Linked DNA regions of Homo sapiens. The protein of the gene in region 1 purifies or fractionates together with the protein of each later gene. This does not show direct contact. Each region holds a gene or a part of one and is shown in the gene's direction. Other genes may lie near its edges. The genes, in order: DLC1, WWC2, C17orf75 and TNS3.

Evidence for each region.
Region 2: the proteins of DLC1 (region 1) and WWC2 purify together in Homo sapiens (affinity purification with western blotting, with the first as the bait; one study listed by BioGRID). This does not show direct contact.
Region 3: the proteins of DLC1 (region 1) and C17orf75 purify together in Homo sapiens (affinity purification with mass spectrometry; one large-scale study listed by BioGRID and IntAct). This does not show direct contact.
Region 4: the proteins of DLC1 (region 1) and TNS3 purify together in Homo sapiens (pull-down; one study listed by IntAct). This does not show direct contact.

The regions. Positions count from the first base shown.
Region 1 is NC_000008.11:13,506,463-13,514,530, reverse strand, and holds part of DLC1 (rho GTPase-activating protein 7), read left to right. Parts: intron 1-8,068. UniProt on the Homo sapiens protein: Functions as a GTPase-activating protein for the small GTPases RHOA, RHOB, RHOC and CDC42, terminating their downstream signaling.
Region 2 is NC_000004.12:183,103,963-183,112,030, forward strand, and holds part of WWC2 (protein WWC2), read left to right. Parts: intron 1-8,068. UniProt on the Homo sapiens protein: Regulator of the Hippo signaling pathway, also known as the Salvador-Warts-Hippo (SWH) pathway.
Region 3 is NC_000017.11:32,333,375-32,341,442, reverse strand, and holds part of C17orf75 (protein Njmu-R1), read left to right. Parts: intron 1-158; coding exon 159-239; intron 240-1,504; coding exon 1,505-1,630; intron 1,631-3,091; coding exon 3,092-3,235; intron 3,236-3,488; coding exon 3,489-3,546; intron 3,547-6,000; coding exon 6,001-6,120; intron 6,121-6,603; coding exon 6,604-6,668; intron 6,669-6,837; coding exon 6,838-6,974; intron 6,975-7,922; coding exon 7,923-8,026; intron 8,027-8,068. UniProt on the Homo sapiens protein: As component of the WDR11 complex acts together with TBC1D23 to facilitate the golgin-mediated capture of vesicles generated using AP-1. May have a role in spermatogenesis.
Region 4 is NC_000007.14:47,272,985-47,281,010, reverse strand, and holds the end of TNS3 (tensin-3), read left to right. Parts: intron 1-656; coding exon 657-725; intron 726-820; coding exon 821-847; intron 848-2,790; coding exon 2,791-2,935; 3' UTR 2,936-5,857; downstream 5,858-8,026. UniProt on the Homo sapiens protein: May act as a protein phosphatase and/or a lipid phosphatase. Involved in the dissociation of the integrin-tensin-actin complex. EGF activates TNS4 and down-regulates TNS3 which results in capping the tail of ITGB1.

The DNA.
Region 1 (8,068 bases):
AGCATCTTGCACGGAGTTGGTGACTTCCTAGGTTTTAGAGCAAAGCCATAAAATCAGAAGTGGAAAATGTTTGATAAGTAGAAAATTCTGAGTCAATTCGTTTTAGCAAACTGTCAGTTCTAAAACAGGCTCCATATAGATTTAACTCTTTTCCTCCATAAAGTAAGATTTTATTTTTATCCCTTTTTACGTTTAACTTATTTATTAATTGAGCTGTCGGATCAGTTTTCCTATTTCTTGGCATAACGTGAAACAAATACATTTTCTCACACATCAGTGTGAGGTGTAAATGAATTCCTCCCCTACCTTCCTTTGCCAACAGGGAGAGTAGAAAGCACCCGAGTGACTTGTGCTTAATAATCAGTCTCCAAAGAGTATTTTGTGTCTCATTTAAAACTACGAAGATTGAATTTCTTATTATTTTACCCAAGCCAGTTTCAATCATATGTCAAGCTTCTCCTGTACAGCTTAAAAGGTTCATTTAAAAAAAAAAAGTAAACACGTGAAATTTCAGGAATTATTTCTGTCCTAAATAGTATTTAATCTGAGTTTTGGAAATTTAAATGTCGGAATCGAATTTAGTTTATATTAATTTTCCTGGATTCACTGCTTGCTCCGGTCACATTTTGTGTAATATTTTGAATAACTGAAGTCAATCTCAATGACACTGACACTCATTATAACTCTTTTAAGGCAGCCAGAAATCACTCCAGTCATATGGAAACTGTTTGTGTCCTTACTTATGTAATCGTAAAATTACATTTCCACCTGACTGTAGTCTCTTCAAGGTAATCTTAAATGTTTAAATGTACAATATATTAGAAAAGAAGTTTAGTAATGACCGAAAAAGTGTGGACTTATAATGCATAAGATACTGTTATATTTCTGAATATTTATAATAAAATTCATCATTTTATAGAAATAAAATGGTACATAAAGGGAAGAAATATTCATGTACATTTTCAAATCTATTAGATGAATACAAAATATACTAAGTGAAAGATGGAGAGCTATTTTGACAGTTGGATCATAAGAAATGAAGTAACTGTTTTCATTATAAGTTTTTATATAGTACAAGGTGACCATCTGCTATATTAGCTATTCTCAAATTTTATGCTAGAATAACTTATATTGATAAATTTTAACTATTCACTGACAATTTGTGTTAAAACTTCTTAAATATGAGAAAAAGAATCTACTTTTTATATATGTGGAAGATAAAATACTGACTTATCTAAATTATGATTTAATTAAAATCTCCAAATGGAATTTCAGAGAAGGAAAGAACATAAGAGATGGTCTCCTCTAACAATGGCTTGAGGTTGTCTACAAGAAGCTGAGAAATGGGATTTAAAAGTGACCTGTCCAAGGTCACACCTCTAGCTAATAGAAGAGAGGACAGCAGAACCACAGTGCCCTGATTCATAATTCAGATACCTTTTTATCCCATCATCCTGCCCTCCCATAATAATTATGCATAATGAAGTATGAACATGTCCAGTAGAAGGGTGCTTTGCAGACAGAAATTTGCAGTTCCTCTAATTTAAAAAAAAAAAAAAAAAAAGGTAAAACTGTCACCAATGTTAATTATGTGGGGAAAAAAATCCTAACTTTAAAAAAAAATCAAATCAGTATGCCTTCAATAAACACTTTACAGTAGTAACTTGCTTTATGACTATTTTATTATATTTGATGTTTATGTCAAGAAAATCAATCCATATGCTAATAATTATATTAATTTTAATCTGATGTTTCTTTAAAAATAGGGCTAGAAAACAGCTTTTCTAATTTATATCCTTGTACTCAAATGATCATAATGAAACTGTCCCAACCAATGACTTTCAGAGGCAATTTTACAGCACCACCCCCAGGCATCCTTTCTTCTATCTAGCCTAAATCATTGTTGCTGTAGCTTATTTCAAGTTCTATGTGGGTCTTTTCACTAAATATATAAAAAGCCTAAGTTGACATATAAAAAATATGTTTACATTTCTCCAGCATGTTTGCAATCCCTTAATTGATTTGTATGTCTGCTCTAAGCCTTCTACAAAGTCATTTAATTGTAGAATGCAGAATTTTTACAGTATATAAATAAATGTCTGAACAACGTGGTATAAAATGGGAGCGTGGGCTATTTCATCTGCATCATACTTCATATATGACAATATTTGTTGCTGTGTGTGCTGAAGCAGTATACCTTCTCAGACAAGACCCTTTCTCATAAATGTAACACATTCCATTTCTAATAGCTGCCATTTCCTTAGAGAGAATGTGTCACGATACTTTTTTTTTCCATTTTCATGACCAGATTGAGTTTCCTGATGTTATTACTACTTAAAAGAGACACTATTCAACACTTCCTTTCAATGTCACCACACTCTACATTATTGGAATGAGAAATAAGTGCAGTAAAGTGGTGGCCCTTATAGCTGACTGCCTGATTCCTAGAAGGCCTAGTAAAAGATAGCACATCACTTCATTTTCTTCATAAGGACATTATAATTTAAAAAAAAGAATTTTTTCTCTCTCTGTCTATACCTACCCATACCATATAACTCACTACAAATACTTATGGGATGGTTTAATCTTATTCATAGAGTTTTAGATCTTACAGGCTTAAAATAGGTCAAAAATTGATCATTTGAAATTTGTCTTTTGTTTGTTTTTTGTTTCCTCTTGAAAAATGAGTGATGTCAGTGTTATAAAATGAGAATCACTCTTTAAAAACTATTACAGTATGGCAAAGTTCCAAATGACCAAGATCTAGATCAGGGATTTTATTATCAAAATAGAGACATGTCAAGAATTGCACATGAGAATTGGAAGAGGACAAGGGAACACTGAAAACTTTCAAATTTGAGGGAAGTAGTGTGAATATTGGGCCTGCTTTCCCCACACGAAAGATAAGCCCCTTGCATAAACAACATAGACCAAACAGAGTTACAGAGAAGAATGACTCTTGATTGACTTTGGTGTGATAGAGAAATACAGTGTTTACTTCTATGGTTCTGTTTTGGCTTTCAACTGATAGTTTACAGAGTTTTGATAAATAAATGGGCTAATTTTTAAGAAAGTTAAACAGAATAATAATGAATAAACTAGGACCTTGAGGCCCAGTTAAAAAAGATTGTTAATTTTGATTCAGTGGATTAGAGTATATAAATGAACTTTAAAAGATTAAACAGTGACTCAAATGCCAAAAAAAAAGGTGAAAGATAATGTAAACAGCATGCATATGAACTTGCTCATTAATTGAGATAAATGGGTGGAAAAGACAATTGCATGTGTGAAAAGGTTGTTTCTGTATTAGCTTGAAATAACAAAGTGTTTTAGCAATGCAATTCAAATAATTCAAAGAGAAAATCAGCCCTGTTAATGGAAATGAGATAGAAAAGAAGTAGGAAGATCAAACAGCAGGTTTAGATACTCAATTAGTGTTTCTTTTATTCCCAGCAATTAGCAAAATACCTAGCTTGCCAGGAATTATCAACACTTATTTGTCAATAAATGTTTGTGAAATGAATGGAAGGAAAAGCGAAGGAAAAAAAAAAGAAAGGAAAACCAGGGTTGAGGAATGGTAATGTGTGGGAGTTGGACTTCTTTCTTATTTTCCAGACATCCTGTAATAATAGAATAATAATTTCTAAAGGGGAAGGAAAATAAGAGGTTGGAAAGAGTCATCAGAGCCTGGGGCCAGAGGTTAACAACACTCTCATTAGATGACATTTCAAGTTCATTAAGCACCAGAAGGAAGCATAGGCATCCAGAAATGGTTTGAAATTAAAAGTTACATGAGGCCAGTGAGAACAGAGCACTAGTGAATTTTCCACATTTTAAATGGGGTGGTGTACCGAAAAAAATAATGGACAAAGTTAGAAAACTGGCTCTGATTTCCTCTTAACCACTTGACGCTCTGTGATTTGATGTTTGCCCCGTAACTACTTTGAGTTTCTGCTTTTTATTAGTAAAGTATGGGATTTCCAGGTCATGTTAGGCATTAGATGAGATTTCATGTGTGCAAATTGTTTTGCATACAGTATAATCAACAAGTCCTTGTTTAAAAAGGCATAAGTCAATTAATCAAGAAAGAATATGGGAGGCCAAGGCAGTCAGATCACCTGAGGTCAAGAATTCGAGACCAGCCTGACCAACATGGTGAAACCCCATCTCTCCTGAAAATACAAAAAACTTTAGCCAGGCATGGTAGCAGGCACCTGTAATCCCAGCTGCTCAGGAGGCTGAGGCAGGAGATCACTTGAATCTGGGAGGTGAAGGTTGCAGTGAGCCGAAATTGTGCCATCACACTCCAGACTGGGCGACAAGAGCAAAACTTCATCTCAGGAAAAAAAAAAAAAAAAAGAATAAAGAATAATTGTGTTTCACTCACATTTTGTTCTAATCACTCATCTATATTGAAATATCATGGACATAGAAGAGATAGTTTCAGCTCATACTCAGCCCTGGATTCTGCAGCTAAGATCAGTTGAAAGCTAAAGGAGTCATCATCACCATCACCATCACCATCATCATGATCAAGTCACTTTACATCTAGTGAGTGCTTGAAATGTGCCATGGACTAAGTGTTTTACATATATTATAATCTCATTGTTATTAACTCATTATCATTTTCCCCTCAACAGTTTTTTCATTATTCCCATTACAGAACTGAGAAAACTGAGGTACATAGAATTTAGGTAACTAACCCTAATCACCAGGGGGAAAAAAGTTATTTCACAGACATCCTCACAAAAATGGGAGACAATTCCTGCCCACCAGTATGTATTTGACACTGAGCTAGTTAATCAGTCCTGCCAAAATTCTTCCCTATCAAATTAATTAGAGCAATAATGGTATTTGTTTCATACAACATTTGTATTACTGCTAAAGGAGATAGCTTCTAAGTAACACACCGAATACAGTACTTGGCCCATAATAAGTGCTTAATTAATTGAAGGATGTTTTTACTATAATTATCATTATAAGTTTCTAATGCACTTAATATTTCTTAGGTATTAAGAAAAACACTTGGTGATAAAAATAAGCTCAAACATTTATAGGTAGATGACATAATTAAGATGAGATGATAGAGATGTATGGAAGACAAAAGTTGATAGCAGAGACATTGACCCCAGGTAGGACACCAAGCTAACAGAAGTAATTAAGTTCCTAATGACATCTTGTTCCTGATTTCAGTGAAAATTGTGCTTATGGAATGACTAAAAATGTAATTCCCTACTGTCAACTTGCTATCTGAGCACCTGGGTTGATGTAGCTATATCTGTTATTTACGCGGAGTGATTACTGTGTCTACTGTTGGAGTGTTCTTAGAAATGATAGCAAAGCTAAAAATAAAGTGACCACTTAAAGCAAAACCGCATCTCACCATGATGATGATAAAACATTATAATCCGTGTTCCTTGTTGAATAAAAATATCTTTTTATAATACAGCAAACCACATTTCAATCATACTGCTTTGCCATCAATAATAAAAAGGTCAGCCACACGTTTAATATCAACTTTAACCCTAGGCTATTTCCTGTTACATGAAAAATTTCAAGTGAAACAAGATCAGAGGAAAGGCAATACTTCTCTTTATTGTAAGAGGTTCTACAGAAAAGAGATATTATGGCAAAGAAGATAATTATTCATTAATGAATTTATTTGCAGAATTAATCTAAGGTACAATGTATTTGTAAATGCCCAAATTATTCTGCATAGGATCAAACAGTACTATTAAGAAGATTGCATACTTAAAAAAAAATAAAACATGGAGATCCAAATAAAACATAGATACTTAGAAATTACTACATCTGGCCGGGCGTGGTGGCTCACGCCTGTAATCCCAGCACTTTGGGAGGCCGAGGTGGGCAGATCACGAGGTCAGGAGATCAAGACCATCCTGGCTAACACAGTGAAACCCTGTCTCTACTAAAAATACAAAAAAATTAGCCGGGCTTGGTGATGGGCACCTGTAGTCCCAGTTACTGAGGAGGCTGAAGCAGGGGAATGGCATGAACTCGGGAGGCAGAGCTTGCAGTGAGCCCAGATCGCGCCACTGCACTCCAGCCTGGGCGACAGAGCGAGACTCCGTCTCAAAAAAAAAAAAGAAAAAGAAGTTACTACATCCATAAAGCAATATTGTCCCACATGGCTCTGTTAATTCTGGGATCTCCTAGAAACCAATATCCCCAGAAAGATCTCAGTGATATCAGGAGAATATCATAAAATATTCCCAGTTTCCTCAAATTACATGCGGGTTGCTTAAGAAAATGTTAAGAGAATCTCCAAATCTGGCTGGCTTGAGCCATAAAGTGGGTGGTAAGTCAAACACTGCCAGTATCTGCTCTCCTCTCTGCAAGAAAATTAGACACTACTGGAAGCGACATTAAATAGCAGCAACCTGGACGTAAAAATAGAGCACCGCTGAAATAATAGCTTGCAGTTTTGCAACACCCTGCTCTTTTCTCATGAGCTGACTTCTAGTGGATTGAAAGAGTTAACTTTCAAATTTGCCTGAATCACTGAGGGCTAAGAATAAAAAAAATGTTTTAAGTTGAGTAAAAACTCAGATATACCTAAAAATGGGTTAACAATAAAATAATATTTTTCAGCTGGGTACCTATTTCTTCATTTTTCTTCTAAAGACTAAACCTGATGGAACGTTGGATGTGTATTTTGGAAAAAGTGAAACACTACTTATTCCCCTTACTTGGCTCATTATAGATGACTTATTCTTTAATTTGGTAAAGTTTTTGATGCTTTCCAGACAGCCTAAAGACATGGAAGCTACTTCATATATAATATTTTAATCTCCATTAAGCAATTTGCCAATAAAACTTTTAACAGGGATTCATGTTTTCCACTAACATGTAATGAGGTATAACAAGTACATTCCAGCATTAAACAAAGTATGTAAAAGTAGAGGAATAATGATTTTGTGTGGGATTAAGACACATATTGCTACTAAAGAAAGGGAATCTGCATGAAATCATATGGAGGTAAATTCTTGCATCATGTTATTAAATGTTTATCCACCCACAGTCTAATTCTAGTCTTGTCTAATTTAGATTAGATAACATGAATATTTTAAAGGAAAAACACTAATTGTTTTTTACTGAAAGTTGGCTGTCTGGACTAGACTCATAGAAATGCTTTTTAGAAATGTGCTCTTACGGTTTTTGCTATTTGTTTGTGTATTTACATAAAGGAATTAAGAAACATAATATCTTCCCTGGGCTTTCTGGCTTCTAAGCATATGTCAAGTCAGTTTGGTCGTAAAGAGCATTCCTCTTCATTTATCACTGAGCTGTGTGCCAGTGGGAAGGCGCCCAAATGTACACAATTTAGTTTGCTAGGTAATTTGTTCTTTGACATTATCATTAAGAAAATGGGTTTCATTTTGGCTTCCACAAATGCTCTTTGTAATGAAGATTTACTTTGACATGAGTTGAAGAACTATATTAAGTTGTGCTCCTGTGATCATGTCTGTTTCCAGGTTGTTGATCGTCTTTTCTAGTTGCCTAATTCAATTCAGTAAGTGTTTTGGGGGCACATACGATGTACAAGTGTGAGTCCCCAAGAGTAGGCTAAGATACAGTAAGATTTCATATCATTACCAGATATTCAGGTTTCCAACATATGCATCTTACTAAGGTGACCCTCACCACGTAGCAACAAAATGTGCCAAATGTAGAGGTGTCTTCTTCTTCGTTCATATGCTGAGAGAGCATTTTAGAAACTGTTAAGTTGCGTTTAATTAACATGAGATTATTTCCCTTACATCTTCTCTTCCTTCCCACAGTGACTAAGCACATGCTATGCGATAGCTGTTTTATGTAAGTGTGTGTGTATATTTATATACATACATATGCACACATATATATTTGGGTGCATGTGTCTCTCTGTGTGTATATATATGTGTATATATATATATATATATATATATATACACACACACACACATGTGTGTGTGTGTGTGTGTGTGTCCATGTGTGTGTATGTGTATAAAGCAGTAGGTGGAGAACACGACCTAGAAATTTAACATGGGATGGCTAATCAGGATGAAAA
Region 2 (8,068 bases), on another chromosome or scaffold:
AATTTCTTTTTTTTTGAGACAGAGTCTCACATTGTCGCCCAGGCTAGAGTGCAATGGCGCGATGTTGGCTCACTGCAGCCTCCACCTCCTGGGTTCAAGTGATTCTCCTGCCTCAGCCTCCCGAGTAGCTGGGATTACAGGCACCTGCCACCACGCCCAGCTAATTTTTCGTAGTTTTTTTTAGTAGAGGTGGCGTTTCATCATGTTGGCCAGGCTGGCAAATTAAGTAATTTCTATGAACCCACTGCTAGACTGTAAACTCCTGGAGTCCCCGATTGCTTATTACTGCTTTTTGAATCCTTTATACATGGTATGTTAAATAAATGTTGGTTAATTTAGTTAATGAAGACAGTTTGTTAAATTAATGAAAGAATATTAATTGAGCTACTCTCTTATTTCCAGATTCTTACTGTTGGGCTTTCAAAAAATAAACCCATAGCCACCAACAGAGACAACTGACTTTCCAGTTATATTTAAAATAATAAGAGAATTGAGCTGCTACATTTTGAGTAATAGTATAAATATGAGAATTACTTATAAGAGCAAAGAAAACAAAATGAACCTTGATAGTCTTAATCACAACTGCCATTGTCATAGACTGCTGGAATTGTTCCTCTCCAGCAGGCCCTGAGTCTGGGTGCCAAGTGGTTACTGTGAATTATTTGAGTGATTATAGTATTTGAAGTGTGGAGAGGTTGTTAAAAGAGGATTAAAAAAATCACTCTAGGAAGCACTAATTTAAAGTATGCTGTCTTCCAAAAATTCCAAAAGAAATATTCTTTTTAACACAGTTTGGTATAATGCTTGCTGGAGTGAACAGTACTATAGTTGCTTAGTATATTGGAGGGTCTAAGAGTTCTCCAGTGACATTAATAGTCCATAGCTTGCAGTGTAATTTTGTTGGAAGACTCAGGACAATAATTGCTTTTTAAATAAAATAAATATTTTATTTATTTATTTTTTGAGACAGAGTTGGCTCTGTCGCCCAGGCGGGAGTGCAGTGACACAATCTCGTCTTACTACAACCTGTGCCTCCTGAGTTCAAGTGATTCTCCTGCCTCAGCTTCCTGAGTAGCTGGGATTACAGGTGCACGCCACCCTGTACCCGGCTAATTTTTGTATTTTTAGTAGAGATGCGGTATCACCATGTTGGCCAGGCTGGTCTCAAACTCCTGACCTCAAGTTACCTGCCCGCCTTAGCCTACCAAAGTGCTGGCATACTATTATCTTTAAATATGTTATTTGTTTTGAGCTGCAAATCCCTAAGCTTCATCTACATAGTCAGCCATTGTGACATGTGGCCTTCAACAAGTTGGTATTTAAATTTAACCAGAGGAAGCCCAGGTGCACCAGGAAAAGCGTGGAAGTTGTCTGTTGGCCCACACTGCCGGGCCCTGCATTGCCTTGTAAATGGCTCTTGCTTACTTATTTTCAGTAATTGTCTGTAGGAAAATGAGATTATCACTTTAGAGGGGCATGGCCAGCTTCTTCTTGCCGATGCAGGAGTTACTAAATTAGCAGGAAACAGTGTTAGCCCTAATACACTGTGAATTCCTTATGATAGGGCTTGAGTCTGTATGTATGCCCTGGTTCCTATGAACTTGATTGAAATTGGTTAAACTGATCTTGTGTTAGAATTTTGGACTTGCCGGGCGCTGTGGCTCACGCCTGTAATCCCAGCACTTTGGGAGGCCAAGGCGGGTGGATCACGAGGTCAGGAGATGCAGACCATCCTGGCTAACACAGTGAAACCCTGTCTCTACTAAAAATACAAAAAATTTGCCAGGCGTGGTGGCGGGTGCCTGTAGTCCCAGCTACTTGGGTGGCTGAGGCAGGAGAATGGCGTGAACCCGGGAAGCGGAGCTTGCAGTGAGCAGACATTGCGCCAATGCACTCCAGCCTGGGTGACAGAACGGGACTCTGTCTTAAAAAAAAAAAAAAAAGAATTTTGGACTTCTTTATGCATTTCTAAACTCCTGTTACTGAAAAAGTTACCACAGAATAATGTAGAAGAGGAAAGGGATTTTTTTTTTTTGACAAGAGTTTTATTCTTGTTGCCCAGGCTGGGGTGCAGTGGTGTGATTTCGGCTCACTACAGCCTCCGCCTCCTGGGTTCAAGGTTCAAGCAATTCTGCCTCAGCCTCCCGAGTAGCTGGGATTATAGGCTCTCGCCACCACGCCCAGCTAGTTTTTGTATTTTTAATAGAGATGGGGTTTCACCATGTTGGCCAGGCTAGTCTCGAACTTCTGACCTCAGGTGATCTGCCCATCTCAGCCTCCCAAAATGCTGGGATTACAGGCATGAGCCACCACGCCCGGCTGAGGAAAGGGATTTTTAAAGGCACAGTGTGTATGTAAGTTGTGAGATACAAATGATTTATCAAAATATAGGTTCACAATGTTTTCAATGTCTTCAGTGATTTTTTCCAATTATTTTATCTTTATTAGATTAAAAAAATTCCTCAGCATAAAATTATTCATTTTAACCATTTTGAAGACTACACCTTAGTAGTTTTTAGTATATTCATTGTTATGAAACCATAAACACTGTATAATTCCTGAACATTTTAATCACCCCCAAAACAAACGACCCCTTACCTATTAAGAACTCACTTCTCATTCATCTCCCGTCTCTACAGCTTTTTGCAAAAACTGATCTACTTTGTGTCTCTGAATTTGCCTATTCTGGACATTTTATATAAATGGAATAGTAAAATTTGTATCCCTTTGTATCTGGCTTCTTTTTTTCTTAGTGTAATGCATTCAGGGTTCATTTTGTAGCATTTATTGTACTACTGCATCATTTTCATGACTTAATAATATTCGATTGTGTAGATATACCATATTTTGTACTTTCATTAGCTGATGTGCATTTGGGTCATTTCCACTCTTTGGCTGTTATGAATGATGCTGCTATGAATATCCCTGTACAATTTTTGTATGAATGTGTGTCTTCAGTTCTCTTCAGTATATACATGTCTAAAAGTGGAGTTGCTGGGTCATATGGCAGTTCTATGTTTAACTTTTTGAGGGGACTGCTAGACTGTTTACCACCATTTTACATTCCCACCAGCAGGGTATGAGTGTGCAAATTCCTCCACATCCTCACCAACACTTCTCTCTCTTTCTCTCCTTCTCTCCTCTTTCTGTCTCTCTCTTCTCTTTCCTTCTCTTCTCTTCTCTCTTTTCTTTTTTTCTTTTCTTTCTTCTTTTGAGACGGAGCCGGTCTCTCTTGCCCAGGCTGGAGTGCAGTGGTGATCTCGGCTCACTGCGGCTTCCACCTCCACCTCCAGGGTTCAACAGATCCTCCCACCTCAGCCTCCTGAGTAGCTGGGATTATAGGCACAAGCCACCATGCCTGGGCAATTTTTGTATTTTTAGTAGAGACGGGGTTGGGCCGGTCTCGAACTTTTGACCTCAAGTGATCTGCCTACCTTGGCCTTCCAAAGTGCTAGGATTACAGATGTGAGCCACCACAACTGGCCTCACTTCTTTCTTTTTTTTAAAAAGTTATTTTAGTGGGTGTGAGGTAGGATCTTACTGTGGTGTTGATTTGTATTTCCCTCTTCGTAGTGTTTTGATGGCCTTAGTTGGGCCCAAGCCTCCCCTTATTCTAGCCTTTTATAGCTGTTGCTATTCTGCCCCCTTTTTGTTTGTGTACTCTCACTCTTACTTGATCAATAAAAAGTTAGGTAAGAGAAGTTAGAGGGTTTTTTTAGTCTCACATTGCTCTTCCCTTTTCTCCCTATCTGATTGCTTTGAGTGATTATTTAATACTGACATTGTAGATATGCATTAATTAACAGTTTTTATTGTATCAACCAGCCAGGTACCCTGGACTCTGGGAGATAAAGATGGATAAGATTTGGTCCCAGCTCAGCTTGCCTACAATCTAGTGTGCATAATCATCATTTAAAAAGTGAAAGAAAATTTTGAGTATTATCTGTTAAATTTTCTCTATATTCCTATATTTCAGTTTAAGGGTACCTTCTTCCTAAACACTCAGAGGGAAGACAGTTGAAAGGAATTAAAAGCAGAATATATTGGCAAAGTATATATTAATTTTTTTCTTTATTTCAAATGTGATGTATTTTATGAGGCATTTGTGTGAGTCACGTAATGAATCATATGTGCAATGTATATACATCAGCTTATTCAAAATGATTTGACATGTAAAGGCTTTTCCTTTTAGCTCGTTATATATGTGAAGAATTAAATTTATTTTTGTTCATTGTTTTTTTAAAAAATGGCAGGAGCAAACCTGACAAGCGCTGCCTCCATCAGGTGATCAAAGGGAACATCCAGGGCACTAAGTCCTGCTGATACACCCTTGATGTGATGTGGTGACAATGGCATTTTATCTTTGTGGTCTTTCTCCCCCAAAACCGTAGTAACTCCAGTCTAATCTTGAGAAAAACACCTACTGGATCCCAGTAGAGGGGTATCCTATAAAATACCTGACCAGTACCCCTCAAAACCGTCAAGATCCTCACCAATAAGGAAAGTCTGAGAAACCCTCACAGCCATGAGGAGCGTAAGGAGACACCAAGACTAAATGTAATGTGTCCCAGGGGTGGAGGAGTCCTGGGCTGGAAAAAGGACATTAGGTGAAAACTAAGGAAATCTGAATAAGGTATGGATTGTAGTTAAAATTTTTTTTTTTTTTGAGACACAGCCTCACTCTTTCACCCAGGCTGGAGTGCAGTGTTGTGATCTCGGCTCACTGCAGCCTCAGCCTCCCGGGTTCAAGCAATTCTCCTGCCTCAGCCTCCCCAGTAGCTGGGATTACAGGCATGTGCCACCACACCCAGCTAATTTTTGTATTTTTAGTAGAGATAGGGTTTCACCATGTTGGCCAGGCTAGTCTTGAACTCCTGACCTAGTGATCTGCCTGCCTCGGCCTCCCAAAGTGCTGGGATTACAGGTGTGAGACACCACACCCGGCCCGATTGTAGTTAATTTTATTAATGTTAATAGATGTACCATACCAACAGGGAAAAGTAAGTGTGGACTATATATGGCAACTTTCCACACTAATTTTGTGGTTTTTTTTCTATAAATCTAAGACTGTTCTAAAAAATAAAATTTTAAAAGACCTCTTAAAAGTCACACAAAACGAAGTGATTTTCTTTGGTGGAAGCATAACCATGTTTGTTGTTTATATGAAAATTCTGCTTTGTAGGCCTCATTTTAGCCCTCCAGCTAAGAATGGGTTTTAAATCATGAAAAGCTGTAAACAAACAAACAAAAATAAAGAAGAATATGTGACAGAGACTAAATGTGGTTCACAAAGCCTGGAATGTTTACTTTGGCCCTTTACAGAAAGAGTTTGCCATTGTCTTTAAAAATTTTATAGCAATATTTTTAAATGTTTCTATAAATATTAACCTTTTATGATAAAATGGCACATTTATTAGTGATCATTGCACATTCTTTTATGCCAGCAGTCCCCAACCTTTCAGGTACCAGGGACTGGTTTTGTGGAAGACAATTTTTCCACAGAATGGGATTGGAGGAGTTGCGAGGGATGGTTTCAGGCTGAAACTGTTGGATCTCAGATCATCAGGGATTAGTTAGATTCTCATAGGAGCGCACAGCCTGGATCCCTCACATGTGCAGTTCATTATAGGGTTCGCTCTCCTATGAGAATCTAATGCCACCACTGATCTGACAGGAGGCGGAGCTCAGGCGGTCATGCTTGCTCGCACCACACACCTCCTTCTGTGCGGCCCAGTTCCTAACAGGCCATTGACCGGTACCAGTCTGTGGCTAGGGGTTGGGAACCCCTGATTTATTCCACAAGGGATTTGGACTCTAGGTACTGTGTGGGACAAAGGTGAGTCAGACATGGGTGCTGAATTTGAGGAGCTGTCTTGTATCTCATGTTACTTTTTTTTTTGTTTTTAAAACAAGGAAATGCAGCATGTTACTTAGTTTCCCAAACTGGTTCTTTGAATTAGCTGGACCTAATGGTAGTGGAAATAGGTCTGTTACTCTTAAGGTAAGAATGATTTCATGGGTCCCTGTTCAAATGTAGCAGCCTGTGGATTCTGTATACCTCATGATTATTTTGATGGAAAATCAAGAGACATCTCTGGGCACCTGGCTTTGCCATGGCAGGGCCTAAAGTAGAGATTGCTTTTGTGGTGTAGAGACAGCTCAACCCCAGTCACTCAATAAAGTTACCAGATACCAGGCGCTGCTATATAATTCTTAAGAAGAGTTGTACATAGGACATGAGAAAAACAGGCAAAATGAATTTTTGGAAGTACCATAGTTGTTTGTTTATACTTGACTGTTGGAAGTATATAGTATTATGCTTTGGTAGTTAGAAATACTGACTTTCTTGTGGCATATTGATAATATTTATAAAATTACTAGGTGATGATCAAGCAAAAAATTATTCCATATATTATCCTTGTGATGCCTGTCACTTTGAAGCATGTCCCAAAGACTGCTCTGTAGAGCTATTTTTTTTTTTTTTTTTTTGCTTTGTCAGTAATTTTTCCTATACTTTTTGCCCTGATGTCAGTAAACAAATCATGGTTCCAAAATGGAGCCAGCTCAGAAGTGAGGTAGTCATGCACTAACAGAGTTATGTATTGGGAGCTGTTTTTTCACTCCTGTAGCTCATGAGGAATTACAATAGTTCCAATAGAGCATTTGAATAAAGGTGTACATTTAATGTACTTTGGTTTCACTAGGAGTGGAGGTAGGAAATTTAATTTTAAAGAAGCATAGACATTGTGTTATGACAATAATCACTTTTAACTAAGTAAGTGTCCCTGGTATTTTTGTGAAAATGAGTATGTCAACATTTGGAAGGCAAAGAGGCTTTCCTTTGGTGTGAACTTTGCTCCTGCTGCATGTGCAGTGTTGTTTTCTGGTGTGGCCTGGGTTGTGTTGGTCACCAGTTCTGAATGTGAACAACAGAGGTAAACGTTGAATTATAGAGATTGGTGCTACAAACCCCTGATTAAAATCCTGATTTACAGGGCTGGGCTCGGTGGCTCACGCCTGTAATCCTAGCACTTTGGGAGGCTGAGGCGGGCGGATCACGAGGTCAGGAGATTGAGACCATCCTGGCTAACATGGTGAAACCCCATCTCTACTAAAAATATAAAATAATTAGCCGGGCGTCGTGGCAGGCGCTGGTAGTCCCAGCTCTTCGGGAGGCTGAGGCAGGAGAATGGCGTGAATCCAGGAGGCGGAGCTTGCAGTGAGCGGAGATTGCACTACTGCACTCCAGCCTGGGCGACAGAGCCAGACTCCATCTCAAAAAATAAAATAAAATTCTGACTTACTAATGGACTGTAGAATACGTTGCATACTTTATTGACAGTTGTGCATTTTATAATTGCATAATTGGTATGAAGTGGCAGTGATATTCAGTTAAGTTTAAAATGTGGTAGACAACTTTGCACAAGATTTGAGGAGCATGTAGTTTCATTTAGTGTGAAACTTGAATCTACTCTGCAGTTTTCCTTAGCATTATGGTTTTTAATAGAGATACATTAGAATTCCAGTCTTTTTTTTTCTTTGAAACTGTGACAGTGAATGAATGTGTGGAATCTGCTTTGTACATAGTATCACTGGGTTATCAGCTTTGTTGACTTACTGGTCTAGGTGTAATTTTGGGCTGGTTGGTAATTCTGTCCATACCATATGTTCTTTTCTTATCTGCTGCTTATCAGTGTTTGAGTTTGATAAAAACAGATCATTTACTTTCTGTTTTGTTTTTTTTTTTTTGATACCGGGTCTCACTCTGTTGCCCAGGCTGGAGTGCAGTGGCGTGATCATGGCTCGTTGCAGCCTCAATCTCCCTGGGCTCAGGTGATCCTCCCACCTCAGCCTCTGGAGTAGCTGGGACTACAGGGGTGCGGCACAACACCTGGCTAAGTTTTTTTGTACTTTTTGTAGAGTCAGGGTTTCGCCATGTTGCCCAGGCTGGTCTCCAACTCCTGGCCTCAAGCATTTCTCCCATCGTGGCCTCCCAAAGTGCTGGGATTACAGGCGTGAGCCACCACGCCCAGCCAGATCATTTACTTTTTTCCTTCTTTGTCTCCCT
Region 3 (8,068 bases), on another chromosome or scaffold:
ACTGCTGTATGGGTTTTCCTTGTCATGAGGATAGGCAGTGCACTTCCACCTTGCAGCATTTTTAGTTGACTCCTTGCCTTACCCTGCTTGCCAGGCCCCCATACTCCTCTTGGTTTAGAGCCCATAATTGATAGCACTATTGGTTTTGTGGCTTGTAGATTGGCACAGCAACGAGGGGACAGTGAGGACGGAAGCCCAAGTGGCACAAATGCAGAAACTCCCTCTGGTGATGATTTCAGGTAAAAAGAGCTTCAGCATAATTCATGCATGTGCTTTCATCTTCCCTGCATCTCTGGCCTGTACATGTCAGTGGATACTCTATTTCCACTGAGCTTTCCCTGAGTCAAACCGTCAATTCCTCCTATCCCCTAGGAACCTCATCCTGATTTCCTCATTGGCTGGTTCATTCAAGGCTGGGGCAAACAAATCCACATACTGATAGTGTGCTTGGTGATTAGCCAAAAAGAAATCCTTTTTTTTTCTTTTTCCTTTTAAATTGAGACAGGGTCTTGCTCTGCTGCCCAGGCTGGAGTGCAGTGGCATGACTTTGGCTCGCTGCAGCGTCAACCTCCCCGGCCTCAGGTGATCCTCTCACCTCAGCCTCCCCAGTAGCTGGGACTACTGACCACCACGCCTGGCTAATTTTTGTATTTCTGGTAGAGATGGGGTTTCACCATGTTGCCCAGGCTGGTCTTGAACTCCTGGACTCAAGTGATCCGCCCACTTCTGCCTCGCAAAGTGTTGGGATTACAGGCATGAGCCACCTTGCCCAGCCCTGAAAAATTTTTTTTTTTTTTTGAGACAGAGTCTCCCTCTGTTGCCCAGTCTGGAGTGCAGTGGTGCGATCTCAGCTCACTGCAAGCTCTGCCTCCCGGGTTCACGCCATTCTCCTGCCTCAGCCTCCCGAGTAGCTAGGACTACAGGCACCCACCACCACGCCCGGCTAATTTTTTTGTATTTTTTTTTAGTAGAGACGGGGTTTCACTGTGTTAGCCAGGATGATCTCTATCTCTTGACCTTGTGGTCCACCTGCCTCGGCCTCCCAAAGTGCTGAGATTACAGGCGTGAGCCACTGCTCCCGGCCCCAGCCCTGAAATTTTTAAATCATCAATTATACCTCAATAAAGTTGAAAGATAAAAAAGATAAGAATGTGTGCAGGGGTGTGATTATAATGACTGACCATGGAATTAAGGCAGAATAAGGAGGGAAGTGAGATGAGAAACTTGAGAGACTGAAAAAGAGGTAGGGTCAGTGGATTGGGGGTTCCAGTGGAGTCACAGTACTGGAGAGAATGAGCTGGAAAGATAGGAATATTTTAAGCTATTTGATGAGGTAGATCATACTTAGTGACATACATTCCTAGAAGCCTCACCAATAGGGGTCATAAGGACAGCTTTCCCCAGTCCTTAAAAGAGCCCCTGGCGTTGGTACCATTCTGTCTGACTTAATGGGTGTGAATACCCTAGTCCACTGGTAAAGAATGTGTGTCTTTCATTTGTCAAGCCTCTCCTTGGCAGATACTAATCTACCATCCGAAGTGGAGCCAGAGCTGCGCAGTTTCATTGCTAAGCGTCTTTCAAGAGGTGCAGTCTTTGAAGGGCTGGGTAATGTTGCATCTGTGGAGCTAAAGTAAGTGCAAAATGTGCTGTGTCCTGAGTTTTTATTTCTGAACTAAATATGAGAAGTGATGAGAAACTCCAAAAGATCAGCTCCTACTAGACCTGCAGAATTTGTCTTTATTCTCTGGCAGCCCGAGCACTGGGCCTCACACATAAACATTTGTGGAATGGAATTAATTGAATGGCAGAGACCCTGGCACCCAATTGCACTTTATTTAATTAGTTTATTTTTTTTTGAGACAGGGTCTTGCTTTGTTGCCCAGGCTGGAGTGCAGCGGCCCGATTACAGCTCACTGCAGCCTTGACCTCCTGGGCTTAATCAATCCTCTCACCTCAGCCTCCCAAGTAGCTGGGACTGCAGGCAGGCACTACGATGCCCAGCAATTTTTTTAATTTTTTTTTTTTTTTTTTTTTAGAAATGGGGTCCTACCATGTTGCCCAGGCTAATAAGTTTTGTACTTAGAAGAAGAAAAGTGTTGATTATTAAAACTAAATTTGTATACAGTTTGTATTTTCACAAACTTTTATGTAGTTTTCCTTACAAAGGGGAAATATAGCAGATACTCTCTTATTTTCATTTTCAGATGAGGAAATAAACTCAGAGTTTATGTAAACTTAAGTCATGAGGCTGGTCAAATTGATGGAGTTCAGGCTTAAACATGAGCATTCTTAGTCCAATTCCAACTGTCTTTCCATTACACCTCTCCTTTTTTGTTTTGTTTTGTTTTTTTTAAGACAGAGTCTCACTCTGTTGCCCAGACTGGAGTACAGTAGCATGATCTTGGCTTACTGCAACCTCCGCCTCCCTGGTTCAAGCAATTCTCCTGCCTCAGCCTCCCGAATAGCTGGGATTACAGGCATGCACCACCATACCCGGCTAATTTTTGTATTTTTAGTAGAGATGGGGTTTCACCATGTTGGCCAGGCTGGTCTCGAACTCCTGACCTCAGGTGATTCACCCGCCTTGGCCTCCCAAAGTGCTGGGATTACAGGTGTGAGCCACTGTGCCCGGCCTCCATTACACCTCTTTATTCTAGTTCAACTCAGACCGTGAAGTTAGCATACAGGTCCTCAGGAGTTTGAGGCCACTTCCCAAGGATAAGGCCACCTTCAGGCACATCTGCCTTAAACATCAATTTGTGAAGCTTTGGGAGAGGGGAGAACATACTTTTTTTTAATATAAACATGGGTATGAACTAGAGTGAAATTTGTGTGAATTTTTCACATAAGACAGGAGAATTCAAAGAAATTTCATGTATGTTAGTGGCTGCTTTAACTAAAGCCCTCCAGGGTATACATTCATTTTTCTTTGCTGCTGCAAGTACACCAACGAGAAGTCTGGGAAGCTCTGAGTTAGTGGGCAGTTTAATGGTGTTGCCAGATCAAGATGACCAGAATTCAGAGCAGTCCACAAAATTATAGATGCATGAGTAACCAAAATAATGCATTTTACATTTTCTTTCTTTTCTAGAATTCCAGGTTACCGAGTTGGTTGTTATTACTGCCTTTTCCAAAATGAAAAACTGCTTCCTGAAACAGTAACGATAGACTCTGAACGTAACCCTTCAGAATATGTGGTCTGTTTTTTAGGAGGGTCTGAAAAAGGACTTGAGCTATATCCTTTCTTTGGTTTTTGAGAACATCAGGAAGGAAAACATGGGAAGGCAGGTGGAAGAATATTACTACCAACCTCCAAAAAGCTTTTCTACTCCTCGTGTATTTAGTTGAATTTCATACCTTCATGTGGCCATTTTGCCTTGGCTTGTTTGCATTTGCAGCTCACATTATTTGAGAGATTTTATATTTCTTGTTGAGAGATGAAATACTGTCTTCATTATTCATCCTTTATTGCTTCCTTAAGAACATACTTTCAGGCTTGAATTGGACAAGTACATTCAAGGGCTGAAAAATAACATGAATTGTGAGGTAAGGTGACTGACTTAATGGTTTTTAAAGACTGAAATGGGGCCAGGCTCAGTGGCTCACGCCTGTAATCCCAGCACTTTGGGAGGCCGAGGTGGGCAGATCACAAGGTCAGAGACCAGCCTGGTCAATATGATGAAACTTCATCTCTACTAAAACTTAGCCAGGCATGGTGGCAGGCACCTGTAGTCCCAGCTACTTGGGAGGCTGAGGCAGGAGAATCGCTTGAACCCGGGAGGCAGAGGTTTCAGTGAGCCGAGATTGCACCACTGCACTCCAGCCTGAGCGACAGAGTTAAAAAAATAAAATAATGACTGAAATGATTAATATACTGTGATTGCTCTACTTGTCAAATCATATAGGTAGACACAAAGACGCCTGTATTCTAGAAACTTGCCACCTTGTGAGCTAGTAGAGAGGTGAATTTTTTTTTTTTTTAGACAGGGTCTTGCTTTGTTGCCCAGGCTGCAGGGCAGTGGCGCGATCAGGCTCACTGCAGCCTCAGCTTCTTGGGGCTCAAGCAGTCTTCTCGCCTCAGCCTCCTAAACAGCTGGGACTACAGGCAAATACCAACACGCCTGGCTAACTTTTGGTATTTTTTGTCGAGATGGGGATCTCACTTTGTTGCCCAGGCTGGTCTAGGATTCCTGGCCTCAAGCAATCCTCCCTCCTCAGCCACCCAAAGTGCTGAGATTACAGACACGAGCCATTGTGCCCAGCCTACAGGTGGTTTCTTTTTCTTTTTCATTTTTTGAGATAGGGTCTCACTCTATCACCCAGGCTGGAGTGCAGTGGCACGATCATGGCTTACTGCAGCCTTTTCTGGGCTCCAGCGATCCTCCCACCTCAGCCTCCCAAGTAGCTGGTACCACAGGCATGCACCACCATGCCCAGCTAATTGTATTTTTGGTAGAGGTGGGGTTTTGCCATATTGCCCAGGCTTGTCTTGAACTCTTGAACTGCTGAGCTCAAGTAATCCACCTGCCTCGGCCTCCCAAAGTGCTGGGATTACAGGTATGAACCACTGCACCCAGCCTACAGGTGATCTTAAAGGGATACAGGAAACATAGTCCTGTAAGTGCTGAAAGTTTCACAAGACTACGTCTGATGTTTTGTATCTATGAAAAATTCGATCTATTCAATGGCATGTAGTAACATGCCTGGCGAGGAAGAGGATGTCCTTTTCCTGATTTCTAGGCATATAAGATTTATATTATGGTCAGAAGTACTGGTCCATGCAGCCTCTGGCACCAAAGACATGCTATGCAATAGTATGGCTGTTCTTGAACTAAACATCAAAGATTCTTAAAAACATTCTATTTTCATTAATTGATCTTTTATGAATTAGGCATATCCATATCAACTTATTCAAACCTTTGAAAAACTGGCTGGGTGTGGTGGCTCACACCTGTAATCTCAGCACTTTGAGAGGCCAAAGCGGGCAGATCACTTGAGCCCAGGAGTTCAAGGCCAGCCTGGGCAACAAAGTGAAACCCCATCTCTACAACAAATACAAAAATTAGCCAGGCATGGTGGCACGCACCTGTAGTCCCAGCTACTTGGGAGGCTGAGGTGGGAGGATCGCTTGAGCCTGGGAAGTTGAGGCTGCAGTGAGCTATGATTGCACCACTGCACTCCAGCCTGGATGACAGAGTGAGACCCTGTCTCAAAAAAGCAAACAAAAACAATGCTTTCAGCTTGTAGCAGTTGTTAGTCATGACTCTCACAAATTTACTACCCATTACATATATAGTAGAAGTTATACTTTTCACATACTTAGAAGATACTGCAGGAGAGAGGAAGGGATAGTGCAGGAGTGAGCAACTGATGCAAGTCTAATAGAGTTGTTCTCCCGGACTAGAGCTCTTCGTGTGTGACACTAGTCTTCAGGGAGCAGTATAGCCTAGAAAGCCAGATGTGCTCACGGTAGCATGTCTGACATCTGGAGTGGAGTGGAGTGCTTTGATGAGTTACTTGTATCCTTCCCCATTCACATTCTGAATACGAATGAATTCTCTATCTACATGACTAATTCAAAAGGCACTTAATAAGCTCATACTATGCATGTTTTAGACACTGTACCACAGGTGCCAGGGAAATGAGGATTATTGAGTGAGTATCTCCATTGAGTGCACAGTACAGTGGGAGGAGAGGGACTTGTGAGTGCCCAACTCTTCCCTGTGAAGAAATAGCATGGAACCCTATTCAGTCTCTTCATTTTATAGAATGCATTTCTTGGTGTGTTTTAAATAAATTCAGTACAGATTTAACCCTCACCCTGCCCAACAAGCCAGGAAAGGTATATCACAATTTCTTTTTTTGAATTGGTGGTGTTAGCTTTAAAAAGGGAGGTGTCTATCCTGGTCTTTTTCACCATCAAGGATATGATGAAGAAAATATGAAGTCCACTAAAGGAAAGGCTTATATTAAAGCAAATGATGTTCTTTCTTGATTTAGGCAAGGGGCCTGGAGAGTCACATAAAATCCTATCTGAGCAGCTGGTTTGAGGATGTTGTATGCCCAATCCAAAGGGTTGTTCTTCTCTTTCAGGAAAAGCTTACCTTTCTGCTACATGCTGTAAGTACTGCCAAATGAGAGCATTTCCTTAACTGAGAATCACTTTGGATGATTTAGAAACATACTCATTTTCTCTGAACATGACTCCCATCCCTCCCCAAATATTCAAACTATGCTTGCTATCAAGATAGACCACACTTTATTTTCTCAGATCTAGAAAGTGATATTACTAAGGTAGAGTTGAATTTCAAATGCTGAGTCTTCCTAATAGGATAAAACATTTTAAAATAATTACTTTTCCAAGTGATCTGGGAAAGGTATAGTTTCCAAAACAATTTGAAAAGGAAAACAAAAATCCAGAGCAATTTTGATTCTATAAAATGTTAATGAGCAGTGGCTGAACAAGGCTCTGGAGAGCTTGTGACCAGTGCCCATCAATTGTTGTCCAGTGTGGTAGGGACTTATGGGGACATTTAGTCATGAGTAGCTGCTCAAGAAAAACTGGAATATATGTACCAATCAGGCTTTATTTTTCTCTCATAGGCTTTGAGTTACACTCCTGTTGAAGTTAAAGAATCAGATGAAAAAACAAAGAGAGACATTAACAGGTAAAGAACAGTTTTTTCAAAGAGAAAAGCTTTTCCACAGCAAGATTGACATCTGTGTTTGTAAACTGCTCCTTCCATCCCTTCCCCACCAGCCCAGTGCAAAATAAATTTGTTTTCATCCTTCCGTCCTGCAATATTGTTTGTGGAAATGGACTTGTGTGTGTGGCAGGTTTCTGAGTGTGGCCAGTCTTCAAGGACTTATTCATGAAGGCACCATGACTTCTTTGTGCATGGCCATGACAGAGGAGCAGCATAAGTCTGTGGTCATCGATTGCAGCAGCTCCCAGCCTCAGTTCTGCAATGCAGGTGAGCTACAACCTCTGAAGCAGCCTTCCTACATCTCTTGCGAGTCCCCATCTTTGCACTGAGAGCCTATGATACAACCTTATTCTTCCTGCCTTGTGCAGTTTTACATGGTTATCTCAAACCATGAGAAACCACTTGGTGAAAACAATATAATTCTAGAAACATGGAAATCATGCCATGCCTAGCAATTCCACACCTAGGTACATAAAGAAATTCTAGTATGTGTACACAAGGAGATGAATTTTAAAATGTCCATAAAGGCATTACTTGAAAAAGCAAGGAATTGGAAGCAATTTAAGTGTTTATCAACAAGAAAACTGATAAGCTGCTATATTCATGCAATGGAATATAACAGAGCAGTGAAAAAGAATGAACTAGAGCTACTTGTGTCAATATAGCTCTCAAACATACTATTTAGTGAAATAGCCATAAAAGAAAAAATACATAAAAGTTTTAACATATGCAGAATAATGTAGATAAGGCTTACACGTGCAAAGGTATATGGGAAAAGTTTAAAGACGTCTGTGGGAATGATTATCCTCTCTGATGGGAAAGGAAGGGGGATGTGATTGGGAAGGGGCATACAGGGGGCTTCAGCCATTTTGGTATTCCTTAGCCATGTGGTGAGCACACTGTTTTTTTAGGCCATTATACATGTCTTAAATAATTCATTATAGGTGTTTTTATAAAGAAATAAATGGGTCAGGCGCAGTGGCTCACACATGTAATCCCAGCACTTTGGGAGGCTGAGGCAGGTGGATCATCTGAGGTCAGGAGTTTGAGACCAGCCTGGCCAATATGGTGAAACCCCATCTCTACTAACGATATAGTTAGTACTCCGGCTGCACTCCAGCCGGGCAACAAGAGCGAATCTCCCGTCTCAAATAAATAAATAAATAAAGCTTTGTAAAATTTCATTTTATTTAGTCTCTCTGAAATGTTTTATAGGAAGTAACCGGTTTTGTGAGGATTGGATGCAAGCTTTTTTAAATGGTGCCAAAGGAGGTAACCCTTTTCTTTTCCGACAAGTACTGGAGAACTTTAAACTAAAGGTAATTAGTTGGCTGTGTGCCAAGTGCCACATGAAATTTTTG
Region 4 (8,026 bases), on another chromosome or scaffold:
TCCTGCAGCCAGCAGTGTCTGGCAGGGCCAGAGGTGCTTCCTTGTGTCCATCTCACACCCTACCAGCTTTTCCAGTTTGTTAGGGCTTTTTTTTTTTTGAGATGGAATCTCACTCTGTCGCCCAAGCTGGAGTGCAGTGGAGCGATCTCAGCCCACTGCAACCTCTGCCTCCCAGGTTCAAGCAATTCTCCTGTTTCCACCTCCCAAGTAGCTGGAATTACAGGCACATGTCACCACACCCGACTAATTTTTGTGTTTTTAGTAGAGACGGGGTTTCACATGTTGGTCAGGCTGGTCTTGAACTCCTGACCTCAGGTGATCAACCCGCCTCAGCCTCCCAAAGTGCTGGGATTACAGGCGTGAGCCACTGCACCCGGCTTGTTAGGGCTTCTTGACCCGATTCCCGCCTTCCACACGGCTGACAGTTTCAGCCTGTGTGGTGCTTCCGTCTACTGGTAACAACTGTTCTGCCCAGCTTCATGACATCTGTTGACTTTGAATGAGCACGCACTTTCTTCTCTCCAAGTGATGAGTAAAAGTATGAAATGTTTTCTGCTGGAAGAATCTTCATGTATGGGAGAGCCCGCCCAGTGCATCCCCCATCACCCAAAAGCCCTAGTAACAGGAGCCATCCTCTCTCCCCCATGTCCCAACAGGCTCTTCTTCCGGAGGCATTACCCCGTGAACAGTGTGATTTTCTGTGCCTTGGACCCACAAGACAGGAAGTAAGAAATTTGCATTTTTATTGAGCAAGGAGTGTACTTAATTCTATCCTTTAGTTTAAAAAAATTAACCTCTGTTTTTCTCTTTAATTTGCAAGGTGGATCAAAGATGGCCCTTCCTCAAAGTAAGTTGCTGAGATTTCTTTACATTCTCTCCTTGTCTGCAGTTGTACTCCAAAGTTGAATTCTCTTCCAGATTTGCACAGGGGGTGCCTTATAAGAAAATGACTACACCATGCCAATTTCTTTTAAAAAAGAAAAAAGTAAAAGTGTTCTCATTATGGACAAGGATCTGGATGCTGTTAACTTTTCTGCCGGCTGTTGGCTGGATGTGCAATATTTACATGTGTCATATAACACTGTGGCATAGATACAGGGAGATGGATGGCACAGCCTTTTTGGCCATTTGGGAATGCATGGGCTCAGCAGTGCTGAGGTCTGCACAGCTAGAAGGAATTGCTCCCTTTGTGCAGGTGTGTGGATGAAGCGGGTGTTCCAAATTTACCAAATGCAACGGAGGAGGGCCTTCATCACACCGTTGCTCCACAGCCAGTCCAGGCAGCTGTTAGAGTTTTTTTTTTTTTTTGAGACAGAGTTTTGCTCTTTTTGCCCAGGCTGGAGTGCAGTGGCGCGATCTTGGCTCACTGCAACCTCTGCCTCCCGGGTTCAAGCAATTCTCCTGCCTCAGCCTCCCAAATAGCTGGGATTACAGGCGTCCGCCACCAGGCCCAGCTAATTTTTTGTATTTAGTAGAGACGGGGTTTCACCATGTTGGTCAGGCTGGTCTCGAACTCCTGACCTCAGGTGATCCACCTGCCTCAGCCTCCCAAAGTGCCGGGATTAAAGGTGTGAGCCACCGTGCCCGGCTTAGAGTTCCCCTTTTATAAGCACACCTTTCCCTGGCTCCCTGAGTACCGTGGCCTTGCTTGGCCTGGGCTCATTCCTGGCCCAGTGTTCCTGTCAGGGCCAGCTGAGGGACCTCATCCTAACCTCCCACTTGGAGGCACAATGGGCTGTATCCCCCCAGCCTGGTTTCCTCGGCATAACCCGGATTTAATGACCACAGTGCCTGATCACAGGCATCCTTCCCTGGAATCCTGTTTTCAAATGGCTTGTCTGTCCAGGAAGTTGCTCAGTGCATGCGTTAGCAGAAGCGGGGAGAAGGAGAAGAGACCCTGGTACTGACGAGCTGGGCTTCCCCGGTGGGGACTGTGTTCTGGGCACACTCCCACTCTGGCTGGTAGCAGAAACACGGGCTTTCATGTGCTTGGAATTTGTGACTGTATTGGGGTTACCTGAGTGTCATTGACTGGTCCCTTCATGATGCGGAAACTGCTAAATTTAAACAAAAAAAATCCTTCATTTTTCTAAGAAAGAGAAGAAAGTCCTTTGCCCAGGACCTGGATAGGGATATGGTCATTATTGTGTGAAGTGCAGGACTCATAAAAGCCTATTAAGATAATGGCTCTAATTCTTCTAAGAAAAATAATTCGATGGGCTGTTCTTTTTAAACAGCTCCCTGAAGTCTATGTAGTTTGTAATGCAGGCTTCCAAGGCCTGAGAGGAGCGCCTAGTGTATTTCCCCTTCGGTCCCAGTGGGTGGGAGTGTCGAAGTCCAGACAGGACTTGCATTCTGGCATCATCTCAGGAGCCCCTGAGTCCCTTGCCACTCGCCTTGCAGACTGTGGTCCAGTATGTCAGGACTGGGGCTCAGGAATCTGCAGGGACAGGTGCCCAGGAGATTCTGGCCCTGGCGTGGGGAAGCATCTATAGAGGAAGTTGAGCCTCAGCTTTGATTCAGGTCCTAACCTGGGGCTGTGGACAGGGCACTCACCTCTCAGCCTCAGGGTCCTCACTGCAGAGCTAGAGTCAGACATCCCATCTGTAGGTCTGTGAAGGCTGGAGGTAAAGTGCATGAACAGGTGGCCAGCAGGGTGCTGGGCACGTGGTTGATTTTTGATAGGTGCCACTTAAAATTCCTCCTGACAGTGCCGCTGGCAGCTGGAGGAAGTAGAAGCTTGGTACTTTGTGGGACACTGACCACTCTGACTGGACTTTCCTTTGGCAGAGTCTTTGGATTTGTGGCCCGGAAGCAGGGCAGTGCCACGGATAATGTGTGCCACCTGTTTGCAGAGCATGACCCTGAGCAGCCTGCCAGTGCCATTGTCAACTTCGTATCAAAGGTCATGATTGGTTCCCCAAAGAAGGTCTGAGAACTCCCCTCCCTCCCTGGACCCACCGATGCCTCTCGAAGCCCTGGAGACAGCCGTTGGGTGAGGGTGGGGCCCCCACTTTTTACCAAACTAGTAAACCTGACATTCCAGGCCCATGAGGGGAAAGAGGATCTTCCAGCTCTGCAAAAACAAGAACAAACAACATCACCGTGAATTGGCCTTTCCTGAAAGTGACTTATCTGACACATCTCTGTAGCCACATGCTTTTTGGGTAGAAGAAGCTGGGCATGGGTGCACCCCACCCCCTAGGGTCCCCATGGGAAAGGGACATGCAAGGAAACAGCACAGAACACGAGGTGGTCCCCATGTCCCTGGCACACTAGCATTCCGGGGGATGAGGAATCCCCAGCCCTTGAGGCAGAGGTGCCGAGTGACTGCCATGCTTCGCCCGTCCGCATGGGCGCTTCTGTCCAGCTGCACCCGAGGCCGGGGGTTTCCCTCACCTCGGTCTTCCCAAGATGGAGATGCTAACGAAACTGAGAAGGGGGCGTATGTTTGACGAAGGTTTGTGCAAGTCAGGCCCTTCTGGAACACAGCAGGGCCTACAACGAGGGGCCTTTGCGATGGGCTGTGAGGATGGGGGTGGTGGGAAGAATTGGCCACGTTGGAGACCCCATGCCACCCCACCATGGTGAGTGCTCTGTGCCTCCTGCTCACCTGTGGTGAGCTGGGCGAGCTGGGCGAGCTGGGCGAGCTGGGCTGGGGAGAGCCTGTGAGGACCGAGAGGAGAAATGAGAAGAAGGAACAAAAATATTATTTCTATGTAATTTATATTTTACTTATGCCAAATTATTTATGATAATTTGCCATTGCTATACTGTACCAGTGTCAAATGCTGCAGCCTGCCAAGCTGTGATTTTGTGAGGCTTGTCCCTATGTAGGATGCACCGCAGGCCCCTGGCCACTGAAAGAGTGTGCAGTGGACTGTGGGTCTCCCATATGCGGTGCCGCCCAAAGGTGGCTTTGCCTCAAGCAACCTACCCTGATGTTTTACTCATTGGAATGTTTTTCCCCGATTGTGGATGACTTCTTTTCTGATGGAGAGAGTCCAGGAGGGATGGAAAACTCCTGGATTTAAGCTCAGCATCCCCCACATGGGCTTTTCGATCATCTTCAGGCCTGAAGCTGCACGACCTGAAGTTCGCCTGCATTTATCAGCCCTCTTTGTGCTGCTCCTTGCCACCTTGGGGTTCCTGCTGGGGACCATGTGTGGTTGTGGCATGTGTGAGCAGAAGGGAGGATGAGGAAAAAGAGAAGAAACCCCGGTACTGACAAGCTGTTTTTGAGTGCCACTGTTTGCCATCATCTAAGCCACTGAATCAAGTGTATTTCAGGCTTATTTCAACATTCCAATGCCCTGGTTTTCCTGCTTGAATCTGTTCGTGGTCAAAGGTTTGGGGGAATTTGTGACCCTGGAACATCCCCAGAGTGAAAGATGGAGCTGGGCCACATCAGAATAAGGCCTTGGCCCCATCCTCTCACAGCCTAGGTGCTCTGCAGGCATGCTGACTGTCCTGATTGCGATCCAGCCCGAAATTCCCTCCTCTGCTTTCAAAAGTCAAATCCCCCATTCTTAGGCCACACTGGTGTCACAAGCTCCTGTCAGGGAGCTGGGGTTTGGGAATGTGCTTTGTGAACTCTGCTTTAAAGTGAGGGGCCGAGGAAAACTTAGAAACAGGCAGAGTTGGAAGCAGCCAAATCACAGTGGGTGTTGTGTGTGTGTGCGTGTGTGCATGCGTGCGTGTATGCGTGTGTGAAAGCAGGTGGACCATTCCACTTTTTAGCTCCTATTGATGCACCAAACCAAGTGCCTCATTTCTGTGCCAAATGTTTGCCTTGGTCGTTGTGGACCTCCTTCTCTAACTTGCGGTGGCATGACTGTCAGGAGGTGCTGGCATTTTCAGCAGATCCTCATGTGTTGACCCTGATGTCTTTAGCAGAGGCCTCTAGCATCTCGGTTTTTCATCCACTGCAGGAATGTGGCCACAGGGAGCAGAGGTTTGTACTTTCCCCAAGAGGTCCTCATCCTGAGACGGTCTCTACCCATGTTTAACCCAAAGAGTGCAGGCCAGGTTCCTTATCCTTCTGATGAAGGATGAGAGAGCTCATTTAGAAGTCAGAGCAAACTAGGGTCTCAGTATTGAGAAACGCAGCCTGCCAGGGAATCACAGAGACATCGGGGTGCCCGCGATGGCCCTCATGAAGCCATGCCTCGACGGCATTCAGGAAGCCCTGCAAACGTGCTTTTTGAACTCATTGGCCAGGTGTGATTTTTACACAAGGTAAACGTGGTCAAGGGCATCGGGGAATTTGCTCCAAGCAGATAGCTCCCTCTGAGGAACCAAAGGAAGCAAGTTTCCACGATTTCTGAAGAGCTGGTATAGGAAGTTTCTTTCTTCCTTTTGTGTTACATGTGCATTAAACAGAACAAGCTGTGTGTCATCACAGATTGTACTGTGGGCTCAGAAACCGTGAGAGAGCCCCCACCGTGGACACCGGCTCTAGGGCCACAGGAAAAGGAACGTTTCCAGGCATTTTGTCTCCAGGGCTCCCGCTGGACAGGCACGTACTGCCCTGGGGAGTAAATGCGGAGAGTTCACGAACTGTGCCCAACGCATGTTATAGCCAGGGTCCTACTAACTACTCAGTAAAAGAACGTATTGTTGTATTCCTCCAGTGTTAAGCTATAGCCATGTTAAAAGTCACTGTGCATTTATTCTCAGCATCAAATACCTTGTAACGTCTTCTCTGCCTTGTTAGTGCATATTTTTACTTTTCTGATACTGTAAAGAATATATCCAGTATGTAAATGAATGTTCTATAAATCTTTTGTATAGTCATTTTCTCTGCTCCTTAAATATCATCTCTATTCAGAGTATAATAAAATTATGAACTTGGTAAGCCTCCGTGAGACGGTATTTGTGTACCCTGAAGTATGTTTGTGTGTGTTTGCACATGTGTGTATGCGTGTGCATGTGTGCACTTTTGTGTATGTGTCTCTGCAAATGTGTGCATGTGCTTGCACAGATGTATCTTTGTCCACATGTGTCTGTGCGTCTGCGTGTGTGCTCGTTCATGAATGTGTGTCTGTGTGTTTACAAATCAGTGGATTCAGTTATAAAATCACAAATGTTTTGCTGTCAGGAATATATTAAGATTTCTGCCCAGAGACCTTTGAAATGTTATATTCAAAGATCTTTGAAGATTAACCACAATGCAGTGTTGATAATGGGTCCTGACATGTTTTCGATGTTGCTATGAATACCCCTACACACACACTGGCTGCAGAAACACACCCCTGAAGTGGGCCAGCTCCTGAAGGACCTCCCAGTGTCTATTGAAGTGGGCACTAAAAGTGAATATTGAGACTGGTGGATTCACTTACACATCAACAGATGCTGGAGACAGCCAGTGTCACCTGCCTCTTCTGTTCCCCCAGCCAAGGCTCCTCCCTCCCCACCTTAAGGGAGTTTGCCCTTTTCTACGGACTCTGCCCTCTTGGGCCTGTCCCCTCCCTCCTGAGTCAGGTGATGGGACACAGGACCCCATCTAACCTCACTCCCTCAGATCCAAACCAGAAAAGAAGCAATGCTTTGGGCTCATTTGGTTATGGACAGATAAAGATGGCAGTTAGCTGCCACCCTGTGCACAGTTTTCTGCCTGCGTGGTCAGCCCCCAGAGACTGTAGCTTTCCACTCTGAGGAGACACAGAGATATTTCACCCCAGCTATGTTGGGAGAGTGAACTTGAAATGGTCCCGGTACTACTGCTTTGGAGCAGAAGAGAGGGCAGGTGGTGGCAGATTAAATCTTGTCCAACAGGAAGCTCCCATTGAGTCTTTGAAGCCAGTCATTGCCCAGACCTTTGACCAATGTCACAAGGTGGAAAGGTGGACAGGGCATTGATTTCACTGCGGCTTAGGGAGTGTGCTTCCCAAGAACACCATACTTGTCACAATTACTGGGCTCCGTACAGTGTGCACATGTGCCTAGGTCCCCGACCAGAGCCAGCCCTGGGGACTGTTGGAGAGACCCAGTGGCCATGAGACCTCAGCTGGACAGGCCCCTGCCACTTGCTGCAGGAGGATGTTATGGGTCCCCCATTCATCTCTCAGCAATCTGTTACCTAATGAGTACCTGGGCCTTACCTACTGGGGTCGTCCTTCTATTAATGTGGTGGGCACCTTGGTCCGTCCACTTGGGGGGTCATTGATCTATTGTGTAATGAACACTTTGGATCTGCCCACTGGAGGACAGTAGGTCTGTAGCTCAGTTGGGCTTCTGTGTCTCATCCTGTCCCCAGGGAGGTAGGTTGCCTGCCTGATGGCTTTGGGGATCACACTTCACAGACCAGGGGCAGTTGGGCTGGTCTCAGAGGATGAATTGGAGTTTTCCAGGTAGACTTGGGGCCTGGACTGGGAAGGGACATTTTATGATGCAGGGATTGGTGAGATCTGGACACATTTGGACAGAAGGGCTGTTGAACTGGCAAACAAGATAAGTGGGAAAAACACAAGTCGCCCTTAAATTCCTGAAAAATCAGTTCACAGTGTGAAGCCTGGCCTGAGGCAACAGAACAAATAGGTCACCAAGAGCCTATCACCAAGCCAGATGACCAGGAAGAGGAAACAGCAAAAGGGACTCCACTGCAATGATTGATCTGGCCGAGGGAGCCTCTCTGTCCCATCTCAGAGAGTCCAGGGTTGGGGGGCTGGAGAAAACAGCAGGATCCCCCTTAGCCCCACCTGGGAAGCACACTCCATCTCCCACAGGCAGGGGACCCACCAGAACACACACCAGGCCAGGAAGGTTTCATAGCTGTGTGCTGGCAGCTTCCCTCTCCCACTGAGAGACACCCCTTCTGTCCCTCAGGTAACGTCAGCAGGGACCCCAGAGGTACCTGATAAACCAAGCAGACTAACATAACGCTGAAAGGCTCTGACGATTAAACTGTCAGTGGGACCACAGGCCACAAATCAGGCCAGGCCCTGCTCCCTAAGCAGAATCAGGGCAATTACCTGCTAAAATTAAATATTTAAATAAGACCCAGAATTCCCTAATAGGTAAAATG